Linked DNA regions of Homo sapiens. The protein of the gene in region 2 purifies or fractionates together with the protein of the main gene of each other region. This does not show direct contact. Each region holds a gene or a part of one and is shown on either strand. Other genes may lie near its edges.

Region 1 (3,500 bases), on a different chromosome or scaffold from region 2:
TCTGCTCACTCAACCACCGCCTTCTGGTTTCAAGTGATTCTCCTGACTCAGCCTCCCAAGTAGCTGGGATTACAGGCATCCGCAACCACATCCAGCTAATTTTTGTATTTTTTAGTAGAGACGGGGTTTCACCATGTTGTCCAGGCTGGTCTCAAACTCCTGACTTTGTGATCCACCCACCTTGGCCTCCCAAAGTGCTGGGATTAGAGGCGTGAGCCACTGCGCCCGGGAGAAGTTGTGATTTCAACCCACATCATGGCAAACGGAATTGTCCTGGCCAGAGCTGGTCCCCAGTGGCTGTAAAAGCAAGAAAAACATATGGAAACACAGGTGAACCAAGGTTGGCTGGCAGGTGAGCTGAAGAAGTTGGCAGCATTGCTGCGGGCATAAGACGTATTAGGAGAACCAACGGAAAGTGGTCACCAGGCCTCATGAGAGACTCTGAGCCACAATCACCCAGACGAACTGTTCTCAGGTTCTTGACCCTCAGAAACGATTCAAGAGAATAAATATTTGTTGTTTTAAGCTGTCAAGTTTTGAAATAATTTGTTATGCCACAATAGATGACTAGTTCATTGTCCCAGACTAAAAATAAACTTTCCACCCAGCTTTCTCTGCTAGCTGCTATTCTCTCTTTCTCCCCTTTCCCTCTCCAGACTCCATCAAAGGGTGGCATTTCCACCATCACTCTTCAGGCTATGGAATCTGTATGCGAAGACTTTCCAAGGGGTACATGGTATAGATAGCTTCAGGAGGATCAGCTCCCAGATGCTCAACTTTATATTTAATCTTTCCCAGAGCTGCTCTGCCTGGGAAGGAACTAGCATTTGAGGCTTCATGTAGATTCTTTTTTCACAATAGTCCTTTTTCTCTTTATTACAAAAGTAAAACTATACCTCTCACTTATCCTGAATATTTCATTGCACTGTAAGATTTCATTGCTTGGTAATTAAAAAAAAAAAAAAAAAAAAACACCTCCAGGGGACTAAATGGAAGGACAATTTGAAGTATTGCTATCAATGGTGGAGGGTGAATGACATTAATGAATGCATAAGAAAAAATTTGTTTTCAAGCTAAGTGGTTTCCAGTTCTTTGCTTTCAATAAAGTTGAAGGAGGATCTAATCAAATTGTCAGCTAATATATGATTAAAAATAATTTTTCATGATAGATCACTATGTACTTTTTGAAACACATTTCAGAAAGAGTTCAAAAATGTGAGTGACATTGCTATAATAAAACACTTTCATTTCCATCAATGTTTGATTACGTAGCTAAGCAAGGTTGCTCTGTTCTTACATCAACAAAATGAAAAGCGGAAAGACAATTGACCCTAATTCCTGTTGCAGTCTAAAATATGTAATTTTCATCAATGGATACACAAATAAACTTTTTTTAAAAAAGCTCCATCTACCTCATTAAGAGATGCATTTCCATTTTATTTTTCATTTAACAATTATTGGCCAGGCGTGGTGGCTCACGCCTGTAATCCCAACACTTTGGGAGGCCGAGGCGGGCAGATCATGAGGTCAGGAGATCGAAACCGTCCTGGCTAACACGGTGAAACCCCATCTCTACTAAAAATACAAAAAATTAGCCGGGCGTGGTGGCGGGCGCCTGTAGTCCCAGCTACTTGGGAGGCTGAGGCAGGAGAATGGCGTGAACCTGGGAGGCGGAGGTTGCAGTGAGCCAAGATCACGCCACTGCACTCCAGCCTGGGCGACAGAGCGAGACTCCATCTCAAAAATAACAATAATAATTATTATTATTTACCAAAATTTGTAATATGTTTATGTTATTTTGCTTACATGTGATTAAAAGTTGTATTGGTAACTTCATCCAAAAGAAAAAAAGAGTTTAATATTCAGAGATGTATGGTCCCAGGAGAACAAGAGAAAATCTTTCATCTCAAGTTATACATCTGTATTTTTGTAGAGAAGTATCATAGATGACCAACAAAAGACTTTCCAAGCACAGAAAAATATTACAGGTCAGGTACAGTGGCTGACACCCGTTATCCAAGCACTTTGGGAGGCAAAGGTGGGAGGACCACTTGAGCTTAGGAGTTCGAGACCAGCCTGGGCAACAAAAAGAAACCTCACCTCTATTTAAAAATCAAAAAACAAAACTAGCCCAGCGTGGTGGTGTGTGCCTGCAGTCCCAGCTACTCGGGATGCTAAGGTGGGAGGATCACTTTAGCTTGGAAGATTGAGGCTGCAGTGAGCTATTATCTTGCCACTGCACTCCAGCCTGGGTGACAGAGCAAGACCCTGTCAGAAGATAGAAAGGAAGAAAGAACGAAAGGAAGAAAATTCATGTTTTAAGTGCACAATTCAATGATTTTTAGTAAATTCCCCAAATTGTGCAGCCATCATCACAATCCAGTTCCTAATGCCTACCCCCATTAAAAAATTGTGGTAAATCTAATGTCTTTTTTTAAAAAAACTAATATTATTAAACTATTTTAACATGACATATATATATAATGTTTTGAGAAAAATAAGCAAAATATTTTAAGATATGGTTTAGCACTGTTTTTTCCTTATCCATCACTTTTATGATCCAGTTTTCCTTAACTTCCATTTATGTGATCAAAGTTAGCAGCCAGCTGTTTGTCTTCCCTATTTGTTCCACAGTTGTACACAGAAAACAGAAGTCAACAAGTTCGTCGGCTTCCCCTATCAGCTCTGTTTAACTTTCTGCAGTGATAGACTGTCACTTCTGCTGATAGACTGTCCTTTTAATAGCCACTTCCCAAACTATATTTTTAAAAAGGCATTAAGTTTTCTTTCCACTATCTCCACTGTTTTGTTTTTTTTTTTTTTTTTGAGACAGGGTCTTGCTCTGTTGCCCAGGTTGGAGCACAGTGGTGAAATCTCAGCTCACTGCAGCCTTGACCTTCTGGGCTCAAACAATCCTCCCACCTCAGCCTCCTGAGCAGATGGGATCACAGGCATGCACCACCACGCCTGGCTAATTTTTGTAATTTTTGTAGAGACACGGTCTCACTATGTTGCCCAGGCTGGTCTCAAACTCCTGCTTAAGCAATCCTCCCGCCTTGGTCTCCCAAAATGTTGGGATTACAGGTGTGAGCCAATGCGCCTGGCCTATCTCCACTTTTGATTGCCCTTTTAATATAACATTTTCTCATGGCCTAATTTGGAAATTCATGGACCCTGTCTGGTGCTCTCCTGACTGCTCCATGCCATTCAATCCTATTGACCCTTCTGTGTCCCCCGGCTCAGCTGGGATTTCCCCTAGGCCACTGACTGCTGAAATCTCTGCCAAGTTCCTCCCCTTGGCTGCTCTTTATATGCAGGCATCCCCTTAACCTCCATTCTAGGCCCTCTTCCCACTCTCCACTTGCTCTAGGTGATCTCATCCAGTCTCACAGCTTCTATGTCCCCGTCTTTTCTGAGGGCTCCAAATCCATGTCTCTGGCTCTAACCTGTGCCCCATGCAGAGGCAGAGGCTCAGAGGTGCAGCTGCTGTCTTGAGCAGC
Region 2 (3,500 bases):
AACATGGCTTTTACTGACTAGAGTGAGTCAGTGGCATTTTCTTGTCTTAGTGGTTCTTGGGTTCTCACTTGGGCAGTTCTGCCCCTGCCAGGGGACACTTGGCAATGTCTAGAGACAGTTTTGGTTGTCACCACTTGGGTGGGGGGAAAGGAGTGGGTGGGTACTTCTGGCCTCTGGTGAGTGGAGGGCAGGGATGCTACTCAATACCCTACAGAGAATGGTCTCCACCCCAGAGAGTGAGCCAGCCCCAGATGTTGAGTGTGGAGGGTAGGAAACCTTGCCTTAGCCCAAGAGACCCTGCCTGCCTGCCCATCTATCTATCTATGTATCTATCTATCTATCTATCTATCTATCTATCTATCTATCTATCATCTATCTATCCATCCATCCATCCTTCTACTCATTGACTCATTGTCTCTATCTTCCACCCATCCATCCTCTTTATCTGCCTTCCATCCATCTCTTCATCTGTCATCTCTATCTATCTTTTTTTTTTTTTTAGACGGAGTTTTGCTCTTGTTGCCCAGGCTGGAGTGCAATGGTGTGATCTCGGCTCACTGCAACCTCTGCCTCCCAGGTTCAAGTGATTCTCCTGCCTCAGCCTCCCGAGTAGCTGGGATTAGAGGCATGCGCCAACACATCCAGCTAATTTTTGGTATTTTTAGTAGAGACGGGGTTTCGCCACGTTGGCCAGGATGGTCTCAAACTCCTGACCTCAGGTGATCCACCCGCCTCAGCCTCTCAAAGTGTTGGGATTATAGGTGTGAGCCCCCGAACCCGGCTCTACCTATCTTCTACCCATCCGTCCCTCCATCATCTCTATCTTCCTCCCATCCATAATCTACCTATCATCTATCCATCCCTCCATCCATCAACTCTATGTTCCTTCCATCTCTCCATCTCTATCTTCCAGCCATCCACCCATCCTTCTGTCTGTCCATCCATCCATCCATCCACCCACCCAGCCATCCATCATCTCTACCTATCTTCCATCCCTCCATTCATTGTCTCTACCTACCTATCTTCCTTCCATCCATCTATCGTCGGCATCTATCTTCCTTCTATCCATAATCTCTACTTTTTTTTTTTTTTTGAGACGGAGTCTCATCTCTGTCATCCAGGCTGGAGTGCAGTGACTTGATCTCGGCTCACTGCAACCTCTGCCTCCCAGGTTCAAGCGATTCTCCTGTCTCAGCCTCCCAAGTAGCTGGGATTACAAGCATGCGCCACCACGCCCAGCTAATTTTTGTATTTTTAGTAGAGACAGGGTTTCACTATGTTGGCCAGGCTGGTCTCGAACTCCTCTCAAACTCTTGGCCTCCCAAAATGCTGGGATTACAGGCATGAGCCATCGCGCCCAGCCTAATTTCTACCCATCTTCTATCCATCCATCTCCCCATCATCTGTATCATCCATCCATCCATGCCTCTATCCATCATTACTACCTGTCTTCTATCTATCCATCCCTTCATCCATCATGTGTATCTTCCATCCATCCATCATCTATATCTGTCTTCCATTCATCACCTCTATCATTTTCCATCCATCCATCCCTCCATCATCTCTATCTTCCTTCCATCCATCCTTCCATCATCTCTATCTTCCATCCATCCACCCACCCACCCACCCACCCACACATCCTTCCCTCTCTCTCTCTCTCCCTCCCTCCCTCCATCCATCATCTATCGATAATACTCCTGGCATGTGGTAAGTGGAGGCCAGGGATGCTGCTCAACATCTTATGATACACAGGACAGCCCCCACCGCAGAGAATGATCTGGCCCCCAATACGAGCAGTGGGAGGCTGAGCAGGCCTGCTGCAGGGAAGGCCTGTCTCCTCCCTGATTTCTTTCCTTTGGTCCTGCAGGCCCTCTGGAAGAGGGAGCTGGAGATTCCAAGTCACTGACACTTGGCTTACTAAGGCTCAGGCAGAGCAAGCCCCTGCTCCTTTAACCCCGAGGAGTGCAGTTAGTCCTGTTCACCAATTAGAAACCAAGGCCCAAGATTTCTGGGCAGCAGGGACCTTGACCTGAGGAGCCACCTCTCTCAAGGCCGGGGCCTTTCTGTGTGAGCACAGCTCCTTCTGGGGACCCCTCAAGGCTCCAGGTCCCAGCCTGGGCCCTGGCTGGCTGCCTTGTCTTCACTTGGTCTTTAGCATGTCCTGCTCGTCCTCCTCCCTCAGGCCTCCCGCACACCCACTGGGCATGATTACACATGTGTTTCCAGGATGTGTGGCACTGCCCCTGGCCTTGCCCACCTGGCCTGGACCCTGGTGCTCAGACAAAAGAGGGTGTGGGGCTTACTCTGTGGGCGTGAGGGCGGCCCCTGTGGCCCGGTGTCTGTCGCTGAGGTCCAGGGACTGGCTGAGCATGGCACTAGGGCTGGCGGCGGCCACCAGCTTCTTGCCCCGCCACAGTTCCACGGCGCTGGCCAGCCGCTCGGCGTCCAGGTACCGCTGGATCTGCGTGGAGCCTCCGGGGCTGTCGGGCTTTTCCTGAACCCTTGGGCTGCCACATGGTTTGCTCTTGTCCTCGGGGGTCTCGGGGGCGCTGCCAGGGGCCGGTGGGCTGACCCTGCTGTCCAGGGCCAGGCTGGTCGGCCGCTCCAACTGGCCAGGCCTGGGGCTCCCACTGGGCAGCGTCTTCTCAGTTTCTTCAGAGACCTTGCCAACTGCCATGGCCTGGGGTTGCTCTGTGGGCTGCTTTTGAGATGTGTTCTCAGCCTCCGTCTCTACGACTAGAAGGGTTTCATCTTCTCTGCTCTCCTTTTTGTCTTCCAGGAGACTCACCCCTTGCTCCTGGGTGACCCTTCTGGAAGGTTCTCTGAGGGCACTCTCCTCCTTGCAGGACTGGATGTGTTTGTTCTGGAACTTGACGTGCTCCAGCCCTCTTTGCCGACGCGACTCACGCTTCTCCCGGCTGCTGGGGACTTTCTCGTGACTTTCAGCCGCCACGGTTTTCTGGGGTGGGAGAGTCTTCTCTGGGCTTGGGGCCTCCTTCTCAGGTGAGGAGTGCTCTAGGGGGGACCTGTCACTTGGCTGCACCTCAGGCTCCGATGCCAGGTGCCCGCCATCCTCCGCTGGCTCCGGCCCCTGCTCAGCTACCTGCTGCCCTCCAGCCGCCTGACCCTGTCCGCCCTCCTCAGCACCTGCTCTTGCGGCTTCCAGGGCTTCCCTCTCCTTCTCTTCTGCCTTCTGCTTCTCCGAGATCATCTGGCTGAAGCTGGAGTGAGGAAAAAGCAGACAGCTGGTTCAGAAACAAACACTCCCTCCACCTCCCACTGAGTTCCGATGGGACCCCCAGCCTGCGGGCTGCAGACGGGGCTTCGCCTGTGCCCAGTGGCCCTGAGAGATGCTTCTGGAAAGCAGGAATCTCCTCGATCAGGAAAGGAGGCTGAGGGTGGTGCCCCCTCAGTGTCACAGATACCCCTGCCCTGCGTCTGCCTGGCTGCCTTGTTAGGGGAGAGGACCCTTGTTGGGGCTGTGGTGGGTGGGTTCTATT
Region 3 (2,446 bases), on a different chromosome or scaffold from region 2:
TTTTTCATCATTCAAATGTTACATAAGATGGGTATAATGATACCTATGTATAATGATACCTCTACCCATCTTAGTTATTTCACAGAAATATAAGAACAGAGGTAGTAGATATTAAAGTGCTTTGAAAGGCACAAGCACTAGGAAGATTAAAGTTTGCTACTAGGTAGTCTGGGACAGAGAGAAAGACCCTAGAAGTCTTTCCCAGTTTCTTGGCCCTTACCAATGGCTCTGGAGAGGTTGAGGCCCCCGTTGACTCGCCCATCCATGGTGACCTTGCCACCAGCATTCTTGATGCGTGCTAGTTCTACTTCATCCTCTGGTTTGTGATCATAGGACATGTCTAAAGCTTTGCCAGCCTCAGATACCACACAGCGAGAGTCTCCTGCGTTGGCTACAATCAACTGCTTCCCTCGTATCAGGGCCACCACCGCTGTTGTACCACTGTCAGAGCCAGGCTTAAGAGGAAGAAAAGGAGCATCATGGGGGCTTCTGAACATGCGTTCCTCACTGATGTGCTCCTGATCGTTCACCTATGCTTGCTTTCACTGGGACCCCCAAAAGAGCTTTAACAAACAGGAGAAGCACACATTTCATCTTTCTAGAGACAGCAGCACACTCCCTCTCCCTTGTTTTTAGATAATTCAACCCCAAAGGCTTACCATCTCATTCCCCTTGCAGAATAAATCCCCATGACTATTACTTCCATCCTAAAGTATCAGGGGGATCCCCTGTCTCAAAATCAAAATTAGGGGATTCACACCTGCCTTGTGGCTTTTCAAGACTCATTGCTCCCCTTCCCCACACACCTCCTCTTTGCCTTCCATCCCTGGCACCATCATCTCTTCTTCTTCTTCTTCATCGTCCTCTTCAGCCTCCTCGGTGTCATCCTCATCTTCCTCATTCTCTGCCTCCTCACTGCTGTAGCCATCCTCTTCCTCGCTGCATTCCTGCCAGGGGGAGGATCCCAGACTGCTGAGACTGGGATGATCCCCTCCCTCCCCACAGCTCATACTCAGAATCAAGAGGTCCTGACTGAACACAGGTCCTCAAAACACTGAAAGATACAAGTATATGGTCATGAAAATTGGGGGGATGGAAAGGGCTAGCATGAGTACAACTGACATCCTGAACTGGGCTTAGCAGTCACTAGCAAAAAGCCCAGGACAAGGCAAGGGCTGCCAGCCAAAAATATCTTTCAGGCACTGTGGCCAGAAAATAAATTTTCCAGAGAAGAAAACAGTCAACTAGCCAAGGTAACAACTATCTCCTTGTTCTCTCTCTAGGAGACAGACTCTGAAAAGCCAGAACTAGATCTGCTTGTTATAGTACCAACAAAGGAAGAGGTAAAAAGGCAAATGGTACCTGTGATGATGGAGCTCAATGAATTCAAGACTAAAGCTTAGAATACAGTGGGTCTTGGGGGATGATGTCAAAATAGGAGAAGGAAAGAGAGTTGAAAACTACAGACGGCAACCAAACAGGACCTCTCTGCAACTTCAGCATCTGCCTGCCCTCACAGGCCCTTACCTCACTGTCTTCCTCTTCTTCCTCCGCCTCATCTGACTCATCCTCACTGTCCTCAAAGAACTTGGACTTAGCAACTCGAGGCAGCTTGTCAGAGGCTGAAGAGCAGGAAGGCCCAGCCTCACCAGTGGGAATGCCAGGCTCACCAACTTGGCCTGCCTCAGTCCCACGTTCCGAGTTGGAGGAAAAGCCTGTGTAGGCCTTGGCTGTGGGGCCATTTTCTTGTGAAGGAGTTTCCCTAGTTGAGTCCTCAGGTCCTGCCTCCCCATTGAGGCCCTGGGACCCTGGTTCCTCGCCTGTCCCACCTCCAGATTTGCTGTGGGGAGGGCCCTTGTGACAGTTCTGCCCGTAGCGTGTCAGCAGCTCTTCAATAGTCATGGTAGCCTCTTCATGCAGCAGTGCAGCCTCCTCATTGTCCACTGCAGGGAAGAGGCTAAATCAGAGCCCCCATGCCAGACTCCTCATGGGATCCGTCCCTCTCACTACCTCAACAGCCCTTGCAGCCTCTAACTTCCCCACAACCTCCCACTCCCAAGGTTCCTCTCGCTCAAGTCTCAGAAGAACATGCCCTAGCTCCTCCTCCTCCACAGACTTCTTTTGGTTTTTGTGTTTCATCCCCTTCTTAATCAAAACAACACTAGTTACTATACTTCCCCTCTGACGTCTCATTTTTTATTGTTAAGTTGTAAAAACCCTATTCTGGCTGAGGATCCAGGAAGCCCACAATGCTACTGTGAATTAGGATTTAGGCTTAATGATTGGCTATTGGGGCTAATAACTGCTCCAGTCTTGAGGGGAAAAAAAAGCACATAAATACTAGCAGGAACCAGGAAGACCCCATCACAATGACAAAAGATAATGTATATACAATGCTTACAGCTCAGATGCCACTCAACGAAGATAATTCTCTCCCTCCTTTTCA
Region 4 (3,500 bases), on a different chromosome or scaffold from region 2:
CACAGGGTGAGACTACGGCTCTGGTAGACATTACTTAATTTTTCCAATGAAATTCTGGTGCATGGCATTCTTTTAAAAGTATGGTCTAGTCTTCTTAAATTCCACCTTTTCATATGAAAAGGAAGCTCAGATCAGGAAAAACCAAGGCTGTTCTATTTTAGATGCTTTCTGGTCTGGAAGGAGAATAAGAAATACATCATTCTTTCCATCTTTTCTCAAGTTTTGGCTTAGGACACAGGACAAGCATTAAACAAGGGAGGTAGCAGAGGCAGCAATGTGATACATTTGTGAAAACCATTAAAAACCGTAGCTGTAAAATCCTGTGCAAATTACAATGTAGCAGTTTGCAACGCACAGTGCCTATGCTCTGTGATGGGAGAAGCACTCTGCCCACACAAGCAGAGCCTGCAGCTGTCCTGAGCAAGTCTGAATGCAGACGTGCTGTTTCTGGGGACGCTGGAGCAATAAAAACTGACGGCAAGTCAGTCAGTGAGACTTAAGGCAAGATTTGTTTCTCTGTTCTAGAAACTTCTATTATAACTCATTTCAGGGAAAACCAAATTTGTTACCTTTTAATTTGTTCACCATTTCACTACAGAAAGTGAAATGTCAAGGCAAGACAAAATCAGAAATGGTGGTTGGGTTTTGTTGTTGTGTTGTTTTTTTTTTTTTTTTTTTTTGGAGACAGGGTCTCGTCACCCACCAGGATGGAGTGCAGCACCGTGATCACAGCTCACCACAGCCTCAACCTCCTCGGCTCAGGTGATCCTCCTGCCTCAGCCTCCCAAGTACCTGGGACCACAGGCGCACACCACAACGCCCAGCTAACTTTTCTATTTTTTGTAGAGATGGGATTTCGCGATGCTGCCCAGGCTGGTCTCAAACGATCTGCCTACCTTGACCTCCCAAAGTGCTGGGACTACAGACATGAGCCACCATGCCTGGCCTCTTTTTTTAAAAAAAATAGACACTTTTTCAAGAGAAATGATCAGAAAATATTAGCAACTTGTTCAAAAATTCACTGAGATGTGTGTGTACACACACACACACAAACAAACACACAGCTCATCCCTTCAAAATTCATTCTGCTCTGGTCTCCTGCCCTCACCCTTTCCTGCACACTCACACCACAGGAAGACAGAGATGGGCTCTGGAATCTATTCATAGGCTTTCCCACAGGCAAGACAACAGAGCTTTACAAGAGGTAAAAGGAACTGATTTGAAAGTTTTGGATCAGGCTGAAGCGCCCAGCTTTCCACCAAGAACTGCAAAAGACAGCATGGAAGCCCCACTGTGAATAAACCATTCACTGTGAGATCAGGACTGCTCATCTGAGGTCCTGGTCAGAGAAAGTGCCCTTCCGCCCACTATGAACAATCTTTCAATGCCCAGTGTAGTGCTTAAAAAATGCCATAGATAAGTAATGTTAGAAGACTAGCACATAATCTCTCTACAAGACAGAAGTGTGCTTACCTGGACTAATTCACTCAGCATGTCCACATTTCTGAAGATGGTAAACCAGAACTCTGGAATTCCTTTGGGATCTGGCTCTTCAGCCGTTGCCGCTGCTTTTTCTGTGACGACTACTTTACTTTTCATGTCTCCCTAAAAAAAAGATGCAACATAGGTAACGAAAATAAAAGTTTACAAACAATGCAGCGGCTTCACGTAGAATATCGTTGCCGAATCCTCTACTATCTCCCATCAAACACCTTGCTTTCTAAGTCTGCACCTCCAAACCACTCACTGGGCCACGCGACACTTTTCAGATGCTTCTGAGGAAAAAGCATTCAAGTCATTACATCCACACGGAATTCCGTACCATTTCACATCAAAGGCGAAGAAACTAAAGAGATGACAAAGTGCCACCGACGCTGGGAAAGGCCATCCAGTGCTAGCTCTGTGAGGTGCCATCCTGAGACAATCATCATCACAAATGCAGATGCAAAGACTGTACATCAACCTTAAGGAGATGCAATGCAAATATGCAGAACATCTAGCACTGGGCAAAAAAAGTCCAGTGCAAGGATAAAGAAGTTCACTTGGACTAATAATCTGACCTCTTGTTAAAATTTGTGGGGTGCTAAGTTGAAATAAAAAAAAAAAAAATTGCCGCAGCAGTATCTGCAGCAAGAAAGTGCTCAGCAACTTATCCAGCTTGTAAGGAAGTGGCTATAAATGCCAGCTCAGACACCACGCAAGCATCAGAAAGTGACCAGAAAGGCCACATGGCAAAAGGAAGGGGAGTCAGGCCCCAGGGAAAAGGTAGACCAAGGGAGGTGAAACGCAACACCAGATGCAACTATGGGAAATTCTGAATGCCTTGCCAAACGGGATTGTTATGATGAAATGATCTTGAAATGAAAGGCCTTTTAAATCAGCAAAGGCAGATTTCCCTTGAGCTGTTAGAAACTGATTCACAACTGTATTAATCCACAGCCATGGCTTCAATTAGGCCAGGTTCTATATATTTTTAAAGCATCAAAAACACATATGGCTACCAAAATCATCATATACCACCCCCCCCCCAAAAAAAAAACTGCAAAAAGTTAGTTATAGGATAAAAGTTACTTGTCTCCCAAACATAAAATCAGGCTGACAAAGTTAATCCATGGTACACTGGGAGTTTTCACAGCACTGGAATGGGACCAGTCACTAGAAAAAGGCTGTGAGCAGGTGACTGATGGCCACACCACAACCACCATCTGCAACCAATCCACTGGCGGAGCACCTCTCAGGGGGCAAGCTAGTCCATGCCACTGAGCAGGAAGGCACTCCCCTCACAACTCCCCCAATCTTCCAGTGACTGAGAACACAGGGGCATCTCTTCTTCATCTTTGCTTTCTCTGATGTTTTAATCTTTGTTGGTCTGATCCCTTATTTCAATATGCTCCTGTCCACAGATAACTGAGGTGGCACTACATCTTACTCCTATTAACTGACAGTACTGTGTCAGATGCTAGATCCATATCAGAAAGGAATCTAAACCCAACCTAATGATGCAGCAGCACCTACTGTTAGAAGCACATAAGTTTACTAGTCATTAAAAATCATTAAAAAATGCTTATTTTTAACAGTATTAAAACAGAACATGAGTCACATGTTTCTAAAGACTTACAGCCAATTTCTCTTCCTCTTCATTTTCACTGTGCCATTCCGATTCCGCATCTGTTGGTTCAACATCGCCGGTGATAAATTCTCTTCTCTACATAAAAATGAGACCTTATTAGAATTATGTTATTAGCTTACTTAGGAACTCAAGAGTTAAATTTATAAATAATGTCTACTAAAAGACTTTGAAAACTGGATATTTTTATAACTTATTTTAAGATTCTAAATTTTAGGGTTCAAAGAAAAATATTAAATGATTCCCTGGGTAAACCTGGATGTTTCACCTAAAGATGTAAAATAAAGACAGTCCCCGATTTCCAATGGTTCAGCTAAAGATTTTCAACTTCCTGATGGTGCAGAAGCCATCACACTTTGGGCACCAATACAGC
Region 5 (3,500 bases), on a different chromosome or scaffold from region 2:
CTGCCAAGAACAAGAACATAGCAGTGAAGGCAAAGGCTGAAAAAAGCAGGGACCAGGAGGTGGGGGTTGGGGTGGGGCTTCTTGCCAGTAGTGCCCCCTCCAAATACCCAGGTGTAGCACCCATCTTATTTGGAACACCAGGCAAGTCCGACTGTACAGGGTAGACTAAGAACACACTGCCAACCCAGGGGCAGCAGAATGCTCAAAAAGGTCATACCCATTAACTCAGGAATGAGTCAAAGGCATAAGAACCTGCTCAGGCAAGCAACCTGGGCTTCAGGACAGGCCCTGCCAAATATCATCTGCAGCATTCTGCAAATGGTACCTGGCATCTCCAAGGGTCATCTACTGTATCCTCCCGCTATGTGCTCACCATCAGCAGTTACTCCCCAGCTGCTCTACTTGGAGCTATAGCACAGTGGTGAGCACTGGAGGGCACATGCCTCACTGGCTCAGCAGCTCCCTAGACAGAGGGGGCATGCCAGCCTAGGAGCTGGGCCCTGCTCACGTACCTGTGCCGTCGTGGCTGTACACAAGACAGGTGATGTTTGCTTTGGACTCACTGTTCACCTGCAATAAGGAGCAGATACTGACTGATGCCCCACCCCCCCATTTGTTATACCATCTTCAGGAAACAGCTTTTCCTTCAAACTCCCCTATATCTTCTCCCAGAGATTTGAGAAAGACAGACAGAGACAAGAGTACAACTGATGAAACATGACCACCTCAGGGGGTAGCATCTTGGGGCTTTCTTTTGGTTGTCATCCATGTGCTAGCCATTTTATGTACACTGTCTCATTAGGCCTCACCATCAAGGTGCAAGGCAGTTATTTTTATTTCTATTTTGTCGATTAAAAAACTGAGGCTATCAGAAGTGAAGTGACTGCCAAGATCACAAAGCTGGTAAGTGGTAAAGCCAGGATTCAAATCCAGATGACTGACTTGAAAGTCCAAGCTCTTCCCACCATACCAACAAGTTCAGGTGCAGCCTTGGGGTTGAGTCAGGGAAGCCTGCAGCAACTGGCCCTTCATGAATCTTACCAGGTGATGAGGACAGAACTTCTTGAGTACTCCATTGTTCTCATTCTCATCAATTTTCCTCTGGTCATAAATCCTACAGTTGGAAAAGCAATGAAAATGTAAAAATGTACAAACGAAACCCTTGAAGAGCTGCAATTTGATGTAGTGGCAGGAAACTGCCAGCTGGATGCAGATAAACAACATTTTCCAAACCAAGCTTTTGGTTTGTGCTCTTCCTTAAAGGGCATCCCTTTTCCAATCCATTTCCAAACCCTAAATCTTTTGTTTGTTTGAGATGGGGTCCTGCTCTGTCACCCAGGCTGTAGTGCAGTGGCATGACCCCGGCTCACTGCAACCTCCGCCTCATGGGTTCAAGCAATTCTCTTGCCTCAGCCTCCTAAATAGCTGGGACTATGGGCACACACCACCACGCCCGGCCAATTTTTGTATTTTTAGTAGAGACAGAGTTTCATCTGTTGGCCAGGCAAACCCTTAAATCCTTTATCCACATACTTCCCATTTTAAGTGGCAATCCTCAATTCTGTCAGTTTGAAGTGGTTTATCTCTCTCCTCAAGTTTTATATCACATACTGCTACTTTTCACTGAAACAACTAACATTAGTATGGAGCTTTTTACATGTACATTACCTACCGAAAAAGGTTACTCACGGGCAGAAACCATGCTTAATGTAAGTCAATGGGTCTGTAATCCCTCCTTAAAACTGTATTTGGCCTGTTCTCCCTCTCATACCCCACAATAATTATTAAAAACTACCACCCATATCCTCAAGACTCCCTCTCCTTTCCTCATTCTTATCAAGCACACTACACCTTCACCTTCCTTCCTCTCTCTAATCCAAGCTTTAAACTCATGAGGACACACATATTATGTGTCAAATATTATGCTAGGTGCTAGAAATACAGTGAGGAACAAGACAGATCCAGTATCTGTTCTCACCCAGTCTCCTCCAATCTCAGAGCCAATCTCTTGAAAAATGCTTTTCATTTCATCCTTCCAGGGACCTTGTTTGATGATTATCTAATTTCTCAACCTCTTCCTCATCACCAGCTGGCCACTTTCTAAAAATCCTTCTGCTGACTGTCCTTTCCTACTATTGCTTTTTTTCTCCTTCCCCTTACAGTTACACTACTGAAAAGAACAATCAACATTCAATATTTCCACTTTCTTACTTCCTATTCACTTCTCAGTCCATCCTAATCTGGTTTTGGTTCTCAACTCACCACTGAGACTTCTCTGGCTGAAGTCATCAGTTAATTATATCCATTTGTTAAGTAGGTGTAAGTCTAGAGTTCAGAATAAGTGTGGTCTGCAGACACAGATGTAAGTCATATATCCGTGTGAAAGGTGGTAGTTAAAGCATTGGTAATGGAATTAGATCTCCAAGGGAAAATACAGAGAAGATTTTCCCTTCGCCCTTTAGAATCTCTGGCCTGTTTCAGAATATAATGAAAACTCTAGTCCCTTCTCCCCAGAAAAATGCACATAAGCATACTTTCTGGAGGTTCACATAATATTTGTACTTCAAGTTAAAATTCCCTGGTATAGAGTAAGATGAGAGCTGAAGACTGAGCTACTGGAGAACATCAGCATTTAATGGGTGGAGAAAGGAAGACACACCCATGAACAACACTGAGGAGTGGTTGGACATCAAGGAGAGAAGGTGCTTCAGGGAAGGAGTAATAATGTCAAGAGTAGAGAAAAAGACTTGAAAAGTACTTTGTTTGCTTTGGCAGTTAGGTTACTGATGACTTAAGCCTTGACATCCCCAGCTCACACGATCCTCCCGCCTCAACCTGCCGCGTAGCTGGGACTACAGGCACACACCACCATGCTGAGCTAATATTTTTATTTTTTGGTGGAGACAGCATCTGCCCAGCTTGGTCTCAAACTCCTGGCCTCAAAAGATTCTCCTGCCTCAGCCTCCCAAAGTGCTGGGATTACAGGTATAAGCCACTACACCCCAACTAAGTGTTTATTAATAGCTTACTATATTCTACATATGATGCTAGAACGGAGTTTGGCAAACTTTTTCTTAAAGGACAAGACAGTAAATGTTTTAAGCTGGTAAACTGGCAAACCATCTAATCTCTATTAAAACTATTGAATTCTGCCATTGTAGCATGAAAGTGGTCATAAACAACATGTAAAGTAAGGCCATGGCTGTGTTCCAATAAAACTTTATTTATAAAAACAAGCACTACAGTTTGTCAAGCCCTGTGATAGACAGTAAGCATAGAAAGATTAATACAAACTTTCCTACCACTTTCTGAACATATGATAGGCCCTTGATAGTTTATATTTTACTTTTAGTTATTTTTTTTGAGACAGGGTCTCACTCTGTCATCCAGGATGGAGTGCAGTGGTGTAATCACAGCTCACTGTAGCCTCAAACTCCTGGGCTCAAGAGATCCTCCTCTGCCTCCCAAGTAGTTGGGACTACAGGAGCATACCACCACAC
Region 6 (3,500 bases), on a different chromosome or scaffold from region 2:
ATCCTTTTTGTCATCTTGGACTCAGGATATTGGGCTGGAGCAGTTTCTCGGTATGGGTTGGGGGAGGGCACTAGAACTGGACTTGCTCTTTACCCAGGAATCTCCCCCAAGGATCCCCAGAGAGTCCTTGTGGGAAACTTGACTGTCAGGCCACATACCAGGAAGAAGGGACTGGATTAGCCTGATGCTGATGGCCGTGACCCAAGACATTCCCAAATGCACTCACCCCCACTATATACCCAGGAAAAACCATGGTATTGGTTACCATTGCCCCCTAGTGTCTGTGGAGGAGGAGTGTCCTATATTCCGTACAGGCTCAAAGGCTTAGGTTGGTGCAAAGACAGATATTTCTTTGTACTGCCCTCTAGGTGCTTATAATTTTTCAGGGATGCAACTGGAAATGCAAGCATTAAATGACAACAAAGTAAACAAGGGAAGCCACAGGACTTCTGCCTTATGGTAGAGCCCTGCATTTCTGTGTCTTACTCGCCCATTGGCCTATGAGCACCTGTACCGCAAGGGTCGTGTCTTTTTCATCTTAATATGCTCAGCACCTGTCACACAATAGGTGCTCAGTAATTATGTTAAATTAAATTGATGCTCTGAGGCTGTCTCCCTTATACAGAGATAGGAAAGAGGAATTTTTGGAAATGAGACTAGGTATAAGGAAGTGGTGGGTTGAGAAAATTGGCTAGACCCACATCACAGAGAGCCTTGAATAGAATGCTACATTTTGACCTTTATCCCCTGGGCCATAAGAAGCCATGGAAGGTTTTTGAGAGAGAAACAATTTAATGTGGTTACCGCTTATGCCCAGCCTCATCAAGGCTATATGCAAATGCTTTCATTTTAGTGCCCCTGGGGTTTGTAGTCATGTGCTATCAAGTTCAGCCTCATGGTGATAAACATGCTAACTGGCAAAAGCCAGAGCTTATAATTGAAACCTGGGAGAAGGAGATACTCAAGGCTCCCTTCTGGTGATGGAAATCCATCAGATCCATGGTAGTAACCAGGCTATTTGGGAGTAAGAGATACTACAGAGAATAAGACAAATTGATGCTAGGCAACATGACTAGTGCACTGGGCATTGAGAGACAGCTAGTATTTTTTTCTTTTAGAAACAAGCATCCCAATTTTTTTCCTCCTCGGTTGGTTCATAGTTTTTAAATGGCTCTGACAACTGTGCTGTCATTATGCCACTTCCATGCTTGAAAAATTTGGTAAATTTAGTGCCCTTGCAAGGCCTAGTGAAGAAAGTCCAAATTATTTAACCTGGCATTTAAGGCCTTCTATAATCAGGAATAAGCTTTCATTTCCCACTGTACTTCCCTGTTGCCCATCTACAGAAATTTTCTTTATTGATGACCCCACTCTCAGTTGTCTTTTAGGCCCTAACAACTATGCTGATGTAGTTCTCTCTTCCTGAAATACTGTCTCCTTACAACTTGTTTTCATCCTCCAAAATGTGGTCTAAGATATTCTTCCTTCTGAAATCCCTTGCTAATTACCCAAGCCTTAAATTACTCTCTTCTCCTCTGGATCCCTTTAGCATTAATTGTCTTCTCTAGTTTTTGAGCTCATAGCCTCTATTGCTATGTATTGTCATTGATAAATTCCATGTTTCTACCTTGAATCTCCTAAATAAATTGTGAGCAACTTGAGGCCAGGGATTGTGACTTCTCCTTCTCTTGCATCATTACAAGATGACTCGTTAGAAAGATGGCTGTACTTCACTGAGTACCAAAGCCTAGTGCATTTAGTTCTGTAAGTCTTATGCCATTGTTTGCTCGAACATCTGCCTCCCTGCACCCCAACCTTAACTCCCAAACTAGGCTGGGAGCTTCTTGAAGTGCCTAACACAATGCCTGATACAGAATTTAGGCTCAAGTATACTGACAGAAAGAACAAATGAGCCAAAGCCACCTTCTCATATTCATCACTAACCTTGTTGGGATGTCTTCCGACAGAGCATGATATAGGCCATGGTAAAAACCACCATACAGCACAAGGAGATGATGAGGATGATGGCAAAGACAGGCAGGCTCTTTCCTAGAGGGTAAAACAAGATCAAGTGGTATTTGATTGAAAATAAGGCCAGAAACAAAAACTCTAAGAAACAGCCTAGACTAAGCCAGGCCTTTTTCTTTTTCATTTTCCATATTCTCCTAACCTTCTTAGCTAGCCAGAGAGAAAAAACTCCAGTCCCATGAGAAAGACTTGAGAAAGAGATGCCATGTGTAAACAGGTTCTTCCAGACTCACTGGTGGGCTGATTGGCCTGGGCATTTGAGCTAGTTGTCTATGCTTTCTATAGGGCCAAGACAGAAGGTTTTCACCTTCCCTTAGAAAAAAGAAAATAATATCCTGACTTTCCAGCTTCACCAAAAATGCTACATACCTTATTAAGATTCTGGTCAGTTACTTCTAGCCACAAAGATTCTTCCCATCACACGCTCTGGTCAAGTCCCCAGCTTCCTTCTTTCTCAAAACATATTTCCACTGAGCCACTTGAGACACATATTCCCATTATGCCTAAAAGCTGAAAGAATCAACTGGACTTGGCTTCCAGTCCTAGATCTGTTATTTACTTTCTGTATGACTATGGTAGGCAGAATAATGGTCCTCTAAAGATATTCACATCCAAATTCCTGGAACCTGTCAGTATGTTAGTTTACATAGTAAAAAGGAACAGAGATTTGAGAATGCTACATTGTTAGTTTTGAAAATGGAGGAAGGGGGCCATGAGCCAAAGAACGTGGGTAGCTTCTAGAAGCCAGAAAAGAAAGACAAGGAAATTAATTCTTCTCCAAACCCTCCAAAGGGAACATAGCCTTGCTGACTGACATTTTGATTTTAGCTCAGTGATAATTGTGTCAGACTTATTTCCAGAAGTGGAAGATAATATATTTATGCTGTTTTAAGATACTAGGTTTGGGGTAAGTTTTTACAGCAGCCATGGAAAAATGAATACAGTGACCTTAGACAAAACTTTGACTGTCACTAGGCCTTAGTTACCCCATAAGTTCAATGAAAAGATTGGATGATGTCTAAAGCACTTTTAGCTATAATATTCTGAATCTAAGATGCTAGGTCAGGGGGGATAGAGAGGCGTGAGGAAAGGAACCTCAGTGTACTTAGGATTTGTTGCTGCAACTGGCTTGTTTTCATGAGACTCTAAGATATCGTGTCCTAGGAATCCAGTATTTGTGGTCCTCAGAGTGTCTTGTTGGGACTGAGAGAGCTCAAGTTATAAGCTGGTACAAATCGAAGAAATATTCTCTTTTGAAGAGAGTCAAGTACTAAAAAACTTGGTAGAGAAAATAGGGCGCAGACCCAACATCTAATAACTTTGCCCAAGGTTATTTTCTCATTTTTCCAAACCAACTCCCTATGAGGCAATTTCTAACTTCTCTTCTCCCAGTAGATGTTCTTCTCGGAGAGGAACGGAGCTATGGAAATCTTGAAGCCAAAGATGGCAATGCAAATGTGGAACATAAAACA
Region 7 (3,500 bases), on a different chromosome or scaffold from region 2:
ATACAAAAATCTGAACAGATCTATAACTAGTAAGGAGATTGAATCAATAATCCAAAAGCTCCTAACAAAGAAAAGCTGGCTTCACCGGGGAATTCTTCCAAACATTTAAAGAATTTGACACCAATCCTCCTCAAAATCTTCCAAAAAAATAAAAGGGAGGGAATTCCCAAATTCCTTCTGAGGCCAGCATTACCCTAATACCAAAGCCAGACAAAGACAATATGAGAAAGCTGTAGATCAATATCCCTGATGAGTATCAATGCAGAAATCCTTAACAAAATATCAGCAATCTGAATTCAACAACACATTAAATAGATTATTCACCACGACCAAGCGAGATTTATTCCTGGGATGCAAGGATGGTTCAACACACGAAAATCAATGTACAGTTAATATCCCACATTAACAGAATGAAGGTCAAACAAGTGCATTACAGAGTGTCTCAAGAGCTGCCATGGCAAACAATAGGTAGAAGAACAGCCCAACCAACTCTTCTTCTCCCCACCCCAGATCTCAAGTTTCTTCAACTAGAGAACTCCAATTAAAGTAACTATTTTTGTCTATATTAGACTTTGATTTAAATTTCATCTTGAAGCAATGGGAACTACTGAAGGATATTAAGCAGGAGAGTGACACAATCAAATTTGTGTTTTACAAACATAACCAGCAACAGTGTTAGGAACTAGAAAGACAGGAACCAGAGAGGTAAGTTAGGAGGCTGTTGTTGTTTTCCAGATGTAGAGATAAAGAGGGTCTACACTGAAGCCAAATAGATGTAGAGAAGGGGTCATATTTTAGAAGCATTCAGGATTTAGCATCTGACTGAACATGGTGAAGTGAGGAACTGATTATGATTTTGAATTACTGACTAGCTTGGATAACTGGGTGGATGGCAATGCCATTAAACAAGATAAGAAAACAGTAAAAATGGTTTTCTAGAGGATGGATAAAGGGTTGGTTTTAGATGTGCTACACCAATGTGACAGTGTTCTTGCCAATAAATATCATATGTATTTCAATGAATAAGAGTTCAATAAAATTAACAGTAAGATATGTAGCAATTGTTGCCAAAAGATAACAGATACGCACTAAACTGAGAGTATCACAGTGATGTATACTTGTGATGTATACATGGGGGGTATATCTTGTGATGGTATCACAAGATGCCAGGCTCCTGATCCCAAATAAGACCTCACATAAGTCACTGTGTAAGGAGAGACTTGGTCACCTACCCATGATTTATTTTCATAAAACTATAAGAAATGATAGAACTGTAATGTGACCAGTTCCCCACCAGACTACTTAAGGGTATATGTCTGCTGCTTAAACTTCAAAGGCCAGCTGGCAAGCCAAAGCCATCATGCCTAGCAGAGGAGCAGGTCCTGAGAACCCAAACATTGCAGGGCATAGCTGGGAACATACCAAGGAAAACAGTGTCATTGCATATACGCAGTAGGCAAAGAGCCAAAAAATTAGCTTACTAGCAACTTAAATATGGGAGGTGGGGTGGATTTCTAGAGCTGTCCTGATGCTGCCCAGGAGTGTCTTGTCTGTAAGTCCTAATAAACTCATCTACTTGCCAAGATAGACCTGTCCGAGTCATTCTTTGGTCTCTCCGCTCCCTCCTAGTTTAATCCTGGGTTTTTCTCATAACAGGACAGAGTGCCATATTTTGCCAGAGGTCAGATCTCAAGCACCAACAACACAGGGAAGCAATGAAGAAACCTCAAAATGCTTGTAAGTGGCAAATATTAGTCATAAAGCCCAATTATTTATCTTTATAAGCTGGGCAGAGCCACTCAGATCCTCACCAAAATGGCTATATGAAACAAGGCAGCCTACCAAACACATCACCAAAATAAGGAATCCTGAGTAACAGCAAAAGGAACCATGATTAAAGCCAGATGCCTGAAACTATTTAGTATAGATACTTAGATACATTATGGCATAGTGTAGTAACTAAAGTTCAAAAGAATAGCCATGAGTTTAATAATGTTTAGTATATGCTAATTCCTAAGGCAAATTTAGAAAGTTTTCATTAATATGATTTTTTTTAAAAAAAAGCTTTAAGGCTAACTGAATATAGACAAGTATTACTCATCTAAAAAGTTTAGTGTATTAATCTCTTCCTGGCAACACTGAATGAAGCGTGGACTATTACACATCACTGTTGTCAGGATAACATTAAAAGTCACACTAATCCAAACAAGTAAAAGAGCCTTACCTTTCCCAGGTTTATATTTAAGATTGAAAGGCTGATTCTGCCAGATGTAGGGGACCAGCATAGGTGCAAACCGAGTGATTATTCTCTCAATGTACTTCTGAAGAATCTCTTTATGTTTATCTGAGTCCCTTGACTCATCTGGTATCAGGAACAGGCAGTACTCCACTGTGTCTTCCATCGTAGCAAGCTTCATGGTTTCTTCCATTCTTCTTTGAAAACTATGTTTAAAGTTCCAAAATATAAACCACATAGAACAATGCAGAAGTAACATCTGAACTCTTTTAGATGGTTCTATGAACACTGTTTTCTAAAATTTAGTTAGGCCGGGCACAGTGGTTCATGCATGTAATCCTATCACTTTGGGAGGCCGAGACAGGCAGATCACTGGAGGTCAGGAGTTTGAGACCAGCCTGGCCAACATGGTGAAACCCCGTCTCTACTAAAAATACAAAATACTAAAAATACAAAAATTAGCTGGGTGTGGTGGCATGCACCTGTGATCCTAGCTACTTGGGAGGCTAAAGCAGGAGAATCACTTGAACCTAGGAGGCAGAGGTTGCAATGAGCCGAGATCATGCCACTGCACTCCAGCTTGGGTGACAGAGCAAGACTCCAACTAAAAAAAAAAATAAATAAAAATAAAAAATAAAAAAATAAAATTTAGTCACATACCATCACCATGGTTTTGGCCTTAACCATACACCACCTACAGTAATATTTATTTAATTTTTTTAAACTTTATTTATTTATTTGAGATGGAGTTTCACTCTTGTTGCCCAGGCTGGAGTGCAGCGGCATGATCACAGCTCATTGCAACCTCCACCTCTTGGGCTCAAGCCATCCTCCCACCTCAGCCTCCCAAGTAGCTGGGACCACAGGTGCATGCCACCATGCCCAGCTAACTTTTTTTGTATTTTTAGTAGAGGCAAGGTTTTGCCATATTGCCCAGGCTGGCCTAGAACTTCTGAGCTCAAGCAGTTCTTCCACCTTGGTCTCCCAAAGTGCTGGGGTTATAGGCATCTGGCCTAATATTATTTTTAATGACCCTTTACACTTAAAACTTTATCTTTAAAATTACGTTAAAAGGAAACCTTGATATAATACAGTGAATAGAAATCTAGTATCACATTCCCCAATTAGTAAGTATGTAAGAATAAAATCTTTACTTTTTATATTTTTCCTATTTTGGAAGTGAAGAATGAAATTTTTAATGTTTGCCCTTGTACTAGCAGTGGTATGTGTAATATATTTCGAGAAACACTGCACTAACACCTAC

The links.
Region 1: the proteins of MYO9B (region 2) and FSD2 purify together in Homo sapiens (co-immunoprecipitation; one large-scale study listed by IntAct). This does not show direct contact.
Region 3: the proteins of MYO9B (region 2) and PPM1G purify together in Homo sapiens (affinity purification with mass spectrometry; one large-scale study listed by BioGRID and IntAct). This does not show direct contact.
Region 4: the proteins of MYO9B (region 2) and NAP1L4 purify together in Homo sapiens (affinity purification with mass spectrometry; one large-scale study listed by BioGRID and IntAct). This does not show direct contact.
Region 5: the proteins of MYO9B (region 2) and DCAF8 purify together in Homo sapiens (affinity purification with mass spectrometry; one large-scale study listed by BioGRID and IntAct). This does not show direct contact.
Region 6: the proteins of MYO9B (region 2) and VSIG4 purify together in Homo sapiens (co-immunoprecipitation; one large-scale study listed by IntAct). This does not show direct contact.
Region 7: the proteins of MYO9B (region 2) and ECD purify together in Homo sapiens (affinity purification with mass spectrometry; one large-scale study listed by BioGRID and IntAct). This does not show direct contact.

The regions. Positions count from the first base shown.
Region 1 is NC_000015.10:82,796,070-82,799,569, forward strand, and holds part of FSD2 (fibronectin type III and SPRY domain-containing protein 2), read right to left. Parts: intron 298-3,500; exon of another isoform or gene 181-297; intron 1-180.
Region 2 is NC_000019.10:17,194,277-17,197,776, reverse strand, and holds part of MYO9B (unconventional myosin-IXb), read right to left. Parts: intron 3,222-3,500; coding exon 2,304-3,221; intron 1-2,303. UniProt on the Homo sapiens protein: Myosins are actin-based motor molecules with ATPase activity. Unconventional myosins serve in intracellular movements. Binds actin with high affinity both in the absence and presence of ATP and its mechanochemical activity is inhibited by calcium ions.
Region 3 is NC_000002.12:27,383,146-27,385,591, forward strand, and holds part of PPM1G (protein phosphatase 1G), read right to left. Parts: intron 1,944-2,446; coding exon 1,528-1,943; intron 948-1,527; coding exon 807-947; intron 456-806; coding exon 221-455; intron 1-220.
Region 4 is NC_000011.10:2,968,330-2,971,829, forward strand, and holds part of NAP1L4 (nucleosome assembly protein 1-like 4), read right to left. Parts: intron 3,206-3,500; coding exon 3,119-3,205; intron 1,606-3,118; coding exon 1,474-1,605; intron 1-1,473. UniProt on the Homo sapiens protein: Acts as a histone chaperone in nucleosome assembly.
Region 5 is NC_000001.11:160,224,550-160,228,049, forward strand, and holds part of DCAF8 (DDB1- and CUL4-associated factor 8), read right to left. Parts: intron 1,115-3,500; coding exon 1,042-1,114; intron 571-1,041; coding exon 513-570; intron 1-512. UniProt on the Homo sapiens protein: May function as a substrate receptor for CUL4-DDB1 E3 ubiquitin-protein ligase complex.
Region 6 is NC_000023.11:66,023,081-66,026,580, forward strand, and holds part of VSIG4 (V-set and immunoglobulin domain-containing protein 4 isoform 1 precursor), read right to left. Parts: intron 2,050-3,500; coding exon 1,945-2,049; intron 1-1,944. UniProt on the Homo sapiens protein: Phagocytic receptor, strong negative regulator of T-cell proliferation and IL2 production. Potent inhibitor of the alternative complement pathway convertases.
Region 7 is NC_000010.11:73,161,509-73,165,008, forward strand, and holds part of ECD (protein ecdysoneless homolog), read right to left. Parts: intron 2,443-3,500; 5' UTR 2,430-2,442; coding exon 2,225-2,429; intron 1-2,224. UniProt on the Homo sapiens protein: Regulator of p53/TP53 stability and function. Inhibits MDM2-mediated degradation of p53/TP53 possibly by cooperating in part with TXNIP. May be involved transcriptional regulation. In vitro has intrinsic transactivation activity enhanced by EP300.